Homo sapiens: one gene and its partner. Changing the gene in region 1 together with any one later gene gives a genetic interaction. Each region holds a gene or a part of one and is shown in the gene's direction. Other genes may lie near its edges.

Region 1 (4,014 bases):
CGAGATCGTGGACACGCCTCCCGGGCCCGAGCACCTGCAGGACAAGGCCGACTCCCCGCACGTGAGCGGCAGCGAGGCGGATGTGGCCTCCCTGGCCCCCGTGGACTCCTCCTTCTCGCTCCTGTCTGTCTCACACGCGCTCTACGACAGCCGCCTGCCGCCCGACTTCTTCGGCGTGCTGGTGCGCGACATGCTGCACTTCTACGCTGAGCAGGGCGACGTGCAGATGGCTGTGTCTGTGCTCATCGTCCTGGGTGAACGGGTGCGCAAGGACATCGACGAGCAGACCCAGGTGTGTGGTGGGCGGGGCCTCCCCCCTGCAGCGCCGCCCCTGGCACCCAGATCCTGACTGCCGGGCGCTCCCTCCCCCAGGAGCACTGGTACACTTCCTACATCGACCTGCTGCAGCGCTTCCGCCTCTGGAACGTGTCCAACGAGGTGGTCAAGCTGAGCACCAGCCGCGCCGTCAGCTGCCTCAACCAGGCCTCCACCACCCTGCACGTCAACTGCAGCCACTGCAAGCGGCCCATGAGCAGCCGGGGCTGGGTCTGCGACAGGTGGGGCAGTGGGGTCGGGAGGTGGGGCAGGGGCCTGCAGGCAGCGCAGCAGCCCCCGCTGAGGCACCCTCCCTCCCGCCCGCCCCCAGGTGCCACCGCTGCGCCAGCATGTGTGCCGTCTGCCACCACGTAGTCAAGGGTCTCTTCGTGTGGTGCCAGGGCTGCAGCCACGGCGGCCACCTGCAGCACATCATGAAGTGGCTGGAAGGCAGCTCCCACTGTCCCGCAGGCTGCGGCCACCTCTGCGAGTACTCCTGACGGGGCATCTGCTGGGCTTGCCCGGGCGGCCGCGTGCAGAACCCCGCCTGGTCTTGTGCCCGAGACGGGCGGAGGCTGGAACTTGAGACCTCAATAAAGGAAGTAGAGCCGCTGTCGGCACTGCGTGTCACCCCATAGCGCGGCGGGCTCGCCGTAGGCCCGCGGGGCAGCTGGCGGGCGGGGGCTTTCGGCGGGGTTGTCGCCATGGTAACCGGCGGCGCCCATAGTCGCTCTCGGGGCGGCCTTCCCAGTGCCTCCCGTAGAGGCCTCTTCCGGGGCGGGCCAAAGGAGGTCACTTCCGGGGTCCGTCCCGGTTCCCGGCCGTTGCCACGACGACGAAGCTGCCGGCCAATGGCTGGCGGATGGGCCCAAGGTTCCCGGCGTGCAGCGCGGCTGCCTGAGGGCGGCAGGCTCATGGCGCCGGCGTCGCGGTTGCTCGCGCTCTGGGCGCTGGCGGCTGTGGCTCTACCCGGCTCCGGGGCGGAGGGCGACGGCGGGTGGTGAGCGGCCCGGGAGGGGCCGGGCGGTGGGGTCACGTGCGGCGGGCGGGGCGCGGGCTGACCCAGCTGTGCCCGCAGGCGCCCGGGCGGGCCGGGGGCCGTGGCGGAGGAGGAGCGCTGCACGGTGGAGCGTCGGGCCGACCTCACCTACGCGGAGTTCGTGCAGCAGTACGTGCGCCCCTGATCGCGGAGGTCGCGTCCTGTTCACCGGCCCGTCTGCCCCGACCGCCCAAGGCCGCCTTCCCCTGACCTCGCGCGCACGCGTGGGGCTGGGGCGGCGAGGCTGGCGGTCCGGCCTGGCCGCGACTCTGCCCTTCTTTCCAGGTACGCCTTCGTCAGGCCCGTCATCCTGCAGGGACTCACGGACAACTCGGTGAGCGCGTGCCCGTCCGTCCCCGGCCACTCTCGCCCGTGCTGGGCCCGGCCACTAAGTCCCCTCCCCGCCCCCGCAGAGGTTCCGGGCCCTGTGCTCCCGCGACAGGTTGCTGGCTTCGTTTGGGGACAGAGTGGTCCGGCTGAGCACCGCCAACACCTACTCCTACCACAAAGGTACGCGGCCTCACCCCTGGGGCCCGCCCATTTGCCAACACCGGGGCGGCTGGACCAGACGGTCCTGACCCGTCTCTTTCCTGCAGTGGACTTGCCCTTCCAGGAGTATGTGGAGCAGCTGCTGCACCCCCAGGACCCCACCTCCCTGGGCAATGGTGAGGCAGCCCTAGGCGGCGGTAGGGGGTGGGGACGCTTGGAGTCTCCAGGTGCCAGGATCCCTGTCCCCGCCGTCTCTGTTGGCAGACACCCTGTACTTCTTCGGGGACAACAACTTCACCGAGTGGGCCTCTCTCTTTCGGCACTACTCCCCACCCCCATTTGGCCTGCTGGGAACCGCTCCAGCTTACAGCTTTGGAATCGCAGGTGGGTGCTTCTTGGGACTGGGAAGGACTGAGGCTTCTGTCGGTGAGTACAAAATGGGTTGGTCACCAGGTGCTCATAACCCCACAGGAGCTGGCTCGGGGGTGCCCTTCCACTGGCATGGACCCGGGTACTCAGAAGTGATCTACGGTCGTAAGGTCAGCACGGGGTGGGGGTTGAGGCTTGGGACTCGCTGACCAAAACGGGCAAGGGTGACACTGCTGCTCATGCCCCCAGCGCTGGTTCCTTTACCCACCTGAGAAGACGCCAGAGTTCCACCCCAACAAGACCACGCTGGCCTGGCTCCGGGACACATACCCAGCCCTGCCACCGTCTGCACGGCCCCTGGAGTGTACCATCCGGGCTGGTGAGGTCAGTGGCTGGCAGGAGAGGGCCAGGCCAGGCTAGAGGCCCGCAGCTAATCTCTGCTGCACCCCCTTCCTCCACCAGGTGCTGTACTTCCCCGACCGCTGGTGGCATGCTACGCTCAACCTTGACACCAGCGTCTTCATCTCCACCTTCCTCGGCTAGCCAAAACAGCTGGCAGGACTGCCGGTCACACACCAGCACGTCCCACCTCGTGCTCACGGATTTTATTACACAGATAGTGGCGGCAATGGCCTCAGCCCAGCCCACCCTCACCTGCTTTTCCAGCCCACAAAGGGGGACGATCACGGCCCAGCAAAAGCGATGCTGAGAGGGGAAACAGTCCAGAGTCCAACAGCAGAACTTGGGGGAAGCGGTCGGGGTGGCCAGGAACATAAACTATGTATAGGGGCCGGGGGCTTCTGCCCAGGGCTCCCCTGGACCAGGACGCCAGGTAGGGCAGGGAACCTCAGTAGTCCTCCACCCAGCCATTCTCAGAGATGAATGCGTCAATAACCTCCTTCATAGCCAAGTTGGGGATGAGCTGTTCCTGGGTCAGGGGGCTCCGGGTCACGGGGTCAAAATGACCCACACGCTGCAGTGACAAGAAGGGCAGAGGGCAGTCATGGGGCCCAGGACCATGCCACTGGCCCTGCTCCCCCAGCCGCAGGCCTCACCTGCAGGTGCTCCTCGATGTCCTTGCGGTCGTAGGTGATGCCACTGGGCGTGATGCACGGCTCCCGCATCAGCTCAAAGCTGATCTTGCCACACAGGTAGTCGGGGATGTCTCGCTTCTGTGGCACAGGGGCACACGGTCAGAGGCTGAAAAGGGGCACTGCACGAGCACCTGCCAGCCATCGGCAGCAAGCGACACACACTCACCTTCCTCTTCTCATCCACCTGAGAAAAAAGCTCGTCCATGTCCGCCATGTACTTGTCCTGTGAAGAGTTGAGTGCTGTGCTTGGGGGAGACACCCCACCTCCCTCCTCCATGGGGCACAGACCCAACACAAGGCGGGGATGCTCCCACGCCACGTGCACACACACAGACCCACATGTGGGTGGGGGGCACCCTCACGTGCTTGGCCTCAATGCAGGCCTGCTGGGCCCGGACGTGGCTGTCGTCCTCATCACCCTCGTGGTTTCGCTGGCACTCTTCCAGCTCCCTGGGGGTTGACCAGGAGCCGGTCAGAGATGGACCTGGCCAGATGTCTGACCACACCCCAATCTCAGAGCTAACATCCACACTTCCCCACATTTCCTGCTTGCCAGTAAAGCCTTCGATAAACGCTTGTGTCGGGAGTCGGTGATTCAGAATTATCCCAAGACAGGGCGGCCTGGGGTGAGGGTCCCACCTCTCACGCTCCGCGGCAATGAGCCTGGAGAGGTAGGAGTGCAGCTCGCTCTCCTGGTGGATGCGCCGC
Region 2 (3,500 bases), on another chromosome or scaffold:
TGTCAGGGAATATGCAGTCTGTGGGCCCTGGCAGAGAATAGCAGGAACACTGCAGATCGGCACTGCTTACAGCACAGCAGAGCCACAAACCTGGCATCTGGGCAACCACAGATCAGGTGGACAGACACTGACCTTGGAGCCAGATCTGAAATTTAGAATGTGAGTAAGTCAATGACTTACCTTCCAGACCTTAGTTTTCTCATCCATCAGGTGAAACTAATGATATACCTTCTCCATCTCAGATGAAGGGACGTATATTACACCTTACAGTCTTTGTATGCAGTAAACTTCTTTTGTGAATAGGAGGTCTTTTATATTGGGGTAGAGGTCTCAGGGAAAGTACAGGGCCAGGAACTGAAGGAGATTACCTGGCTTTTTTTTTTAATAAAAGGGTCTTGTTCTGTCACTGAGGCTGGAGTGCAGTGGTGCCATCATAGCTCACTGTAACCTCAAGCTCCTGGGCTTGAGCAATCCTTCTGCCTCAGCCCCTCAAGTAGCTGGGACTACAAGTGCATGCTACCACACCTAGTTAATTTTAATTGTTTCGTAGAGATCAGGTCTTGCTATGTTACCCAGGCTGATCTCAAACTCCTGGGCTCAAACATTCCTCCTACTTCAGCCCCCCAAAGTGCTAGGGTTACAGGCATGAGCTGCTATGCCTGCCTGGCCTGACTGGGCTTTTTCTTTCTTTCTTTCTTAGTTTCTTTTTTTTTAAAAGAATTGTAGATATGTAGTAAGCCACCTTATGGAAATTGTAATATGATGGAAATTAGAGAACAAATTGGCCAAGCTTTTCATTGACTTACAAGGAGAAAATTGGAGAAGAACTTTCACTGTTTTATTGCTTGTCTTTGCATTATCTTTTTGAGCTTGTGTGTGTGTGTGTGTGTGTGTGTGTGTGTGTGTATTTGGCTTAGGATTTAGAAAAAGCAGCAGTCTTAGAAACCTTGTATGACCAGAGTGTGGGATAAGATTGAAGCAAGAAGTAATTAAATGTGCTTTAATTATTTAAGGCAGAAAATAGTGCAGTGGTCACTTCTGGGTTCTGCTTTTTGAACTCAGTTAGTACCCTGGGATCACAGAGGAATGGCACTGTCTTGTGCTTGTTCCCCTTATTAAGCTCAGCATGTGGCCCAATTAATGCAGTGATCCAGAAGGCAAGGGAGGTAGTGGTGGCTTTGTGCTGTTGCCTTAAGGACACGGGGCTGTGTTTCCCGCCTGGCTCCCTCCTGTCCTAGGCCTGGCTCAGGAGTTGTCTCCACATGAGGCTGTGCAAGTCTGTGCTGTGGCTGTTGCAGCTCCCCCCTGTGAAATACAATGTGTGAACTATTGATGCATCACGTAGAATGATTCCATCTTCTCTGTGGGTCAGAGGCAAGAGTGGAGCTATTGTTGATGAAATCAGAGATGTGAGAGGGGTCCATGTGGATTAGAAATGGTGAGATGGCTTGCCTGCCCAGATGAGAAAGCTGCTTATTTCTGGGGCTCTATCTGAGGGAGGAGGTCCTGCATTGCATCCCATCGGCCATGGGGCAGAGCCACCTGGGGTTTCCCAACAAAAAGCAACATTGGCAAGGTAGCCATTTCAGTGCACCGTGTATAAGAATGCCTCCTTCTGCCAGGCGCGGCGGCTCATGCCTGTAATCCCAGCACTTTGGGAGGCCAAGGTGGGTGGATCATAAGGTCAGGAGTTCAAGACCAGCCTGGCCAATATGGTGAAACCTGATCTCTACTAAAAATACAAAAATTAGCCAGGCATGGTGGCGGGTGCCTATAGTCCCAGCTACTCGGGAGGCTGAGGCAGGAGAATTGATTGAACCTGGGAGGCGGAGGTTGCAGTGAGCCGAGATCGCGCCACTGCACTCCAGCCTGGGTGACAGAGCAAAACTCTGTCCCCTCCACCAAAAAAAAAGAATGCCTTTTTCTATCCGGGTCAAGACTCAACAGGTTTTTATTGTTTGTTCATTTGTTCATTCACCACTAGACTGTTTTTCAAGTGGCACAGCTTTCAACTCTGCAACTGGTTTAGAAGGACGGGGTGGGGGGCAATAAGAATGACCCTGGCTACCTAAAGGAAAGGGAAGGAAAAAGGTCCCAAAAGGGGAGACTGGAGATGGGGCATCTTTGGGCCCTTGTGGCACCCTAGGTCTCGAGCCCTGTGATTCAATGACTGTTTTTCTTCACCCCTCGCAGATGGAGCGGCAGCGCCTCGCTCGAGAGAAGCAGATGAGGGAGGAGGCTGAACGCACGAGGGATGAGTTGGAGAGGAGGCTGCTGCAGATGAAAGAAGAAGCAACAATGGCCAACGAAGCACTGGTGATTTCTGAGGGGCTGGGGTTCCAGGAGGCTACTTGGGGACTTCCTTGGCTTTTCTGGAGCTTGGTCTCCTGAAAACCATGAGTTAGCAGCGTTTGCTTTGAAATACTTAATTTCAGCTTTGAAAAAATCAGTGCCTTTTCTTTTCACCTGTGTTGGCAGAAGCAGATTTAGGTTGAGCTTATGTGCAGCCAAACTCCACTTTCACCACGAGGTTGCCTTTATAGCAGGGCTTCTCAGCCTGGGCACTACTGACATTTGGGGCTGACCATCCTTTGCTGTAGGAACTAGATCCCAGTAGCAGCACCTCACCCTCCATTTGTAACAATCCAAAACATCTTCAGACATTGCCACATGTCTCTTTTTTTTTTTTTTTTTTTTGAGACGGAGTCTCGCTCTGTTGCCTAGGCTGGAGTGTACAGTGGCACGATCTCAGCTTACTGCAATCTTCACCTCCCAGGTTCAAGCAATTCTCCTGCCTCAGCCTCCTGAGCAGCTGGGATTACAGGCATGCATCACCATGCCCAGCTAATTTTTGTATTTTTAGTAGAGATGGGGTTTCCCCATGTTGGTCAGGCTGGTTTCGAACTCCTGACCTCGTGATCTGCCCGCCTCAGCCTCCCAAAGTGCTGGGATTATAGGTGTTAGCCACCGTGCCCAGCTGTACTTTTATTTTTTTTTTTTGAGATGGAGTTTCACTCTTGTTGCCCAAGCTGGAGTGCAATGGCATGATCTTGGCTCACTGCAACCTCCGCCTCCTGGGTTCAAGCGATTCTCCTGCCTCAGCCTCCCAAGTAGCTGGGATTACAGGTGCGCGCCAACACATCCAGCTTTTTTTTTTTTGTATTTTTAGTAGAAATGGGTTTTCACCATGTTAGCCAGGCTGGTCTTGAACTCCTGACCTCAGGTGATCTGCCCGCCTCAGCCTCCCAAAAGGCTGGGATTATAGGCGTGAGCCACCGTGCCCCACCTGCCACATGTCTCTTGCAGGGGACAAAAAACTCCTCTGGTTCTAACCACTGATTTAAAGGGAAAGAACAGAGTTTAAGTTGTTTTTCTCCACGTGAAGCATAAGCCTGAGCTGAGGTGGGTACTCAGAGAAGGTGCTCTTGTTACTCCCCATGGGTGCAGCCCGAAGGGCCCTTCTGAAAAGTTGGGGAATGTGGCTTGTCATTTCTTGTCAG

Evidence for each region.
Region 2: changes in JMJD8 (region 1) and NF2 together harm fitness more than expected from each alone (negative genetic interaction), as found in Homo sapiens cells (one large-scale study listed by BioGRID).

What each region holds. Positions count from the first base shown.
Region 1 is NC_000016.10:681,535-685,548, reverse strand, and holds JMJD8 (jmjC domain-containing protein 8 isoform 1 precursor), read left to right. Parts: upstream 1-1,214; 5' UTR 1,215-1,229; coding exon 1,230-1,315; intron 1,316-1,393; coding exon 1,394-1,483; intron 1,484-1,639; coding exon 1,640-1,688; intron 1,689-1,767; coding exon 1,768-1,864; intron 1,865-1,950; coding exon 1,951-2,019; exon of another isoform or gene 2,020-2,107; coding exon 2,108-2,227; intron 2,228-2,314; coding exon 2,315-2,382; intron 2,383-2,461; coding exon 2,462-2,596; intron 2,597-2,674; coding exon 2,675-2,755; 3' UTR 2,756-3,059; coding exon of another isoform or gene 3,060-3,185; 3' UTR 3,186-3,267; coding exon of another isoform or gene 3,268-3,384; 3' UTR 3,385-3,472; coding exon of another isoform or gene 3,473-3,529; 3' UTR 3,530-3,668; coding exon of another isoform or gene 3,669-3,756; 3' UTR 3,757-3,879; downstream 3,880-4,014. Other genes in the region: GATOR2 complex protein WDR24, read left to right, coding at 1-292, 373-557, 647-815; STUB1 (E3 ubiquitin-protein ligase CHIP), read right to left, coding at 3,060-3,185, 3,268-3,384, 3,473-3,529, 3,669-3,756, 3,946-4,014. UniProt on the Homo sapiens protein: Functions as a positive regulator of TNF-induced NF-kappa-B signaling. Regulates angiogenesis and cellular metabolism through interaction with PKM.
Region 2 is NC_000022.11:29,669,633-29,673,132, forward strand, and holds part of NF2 (merlin), read left to right. Parts: intron 1-2,193; coding exon 2,194-2,316; intron 2,317-3,500. UniProt on the Homo sapiens protein: Probable regulator of the Hippo/SWH (Sav/Wts/Hpo) signaling pathway, a signaling pathway that plays a pivotal role in tumor suppression by restricting proliferation and promoting apoptosis.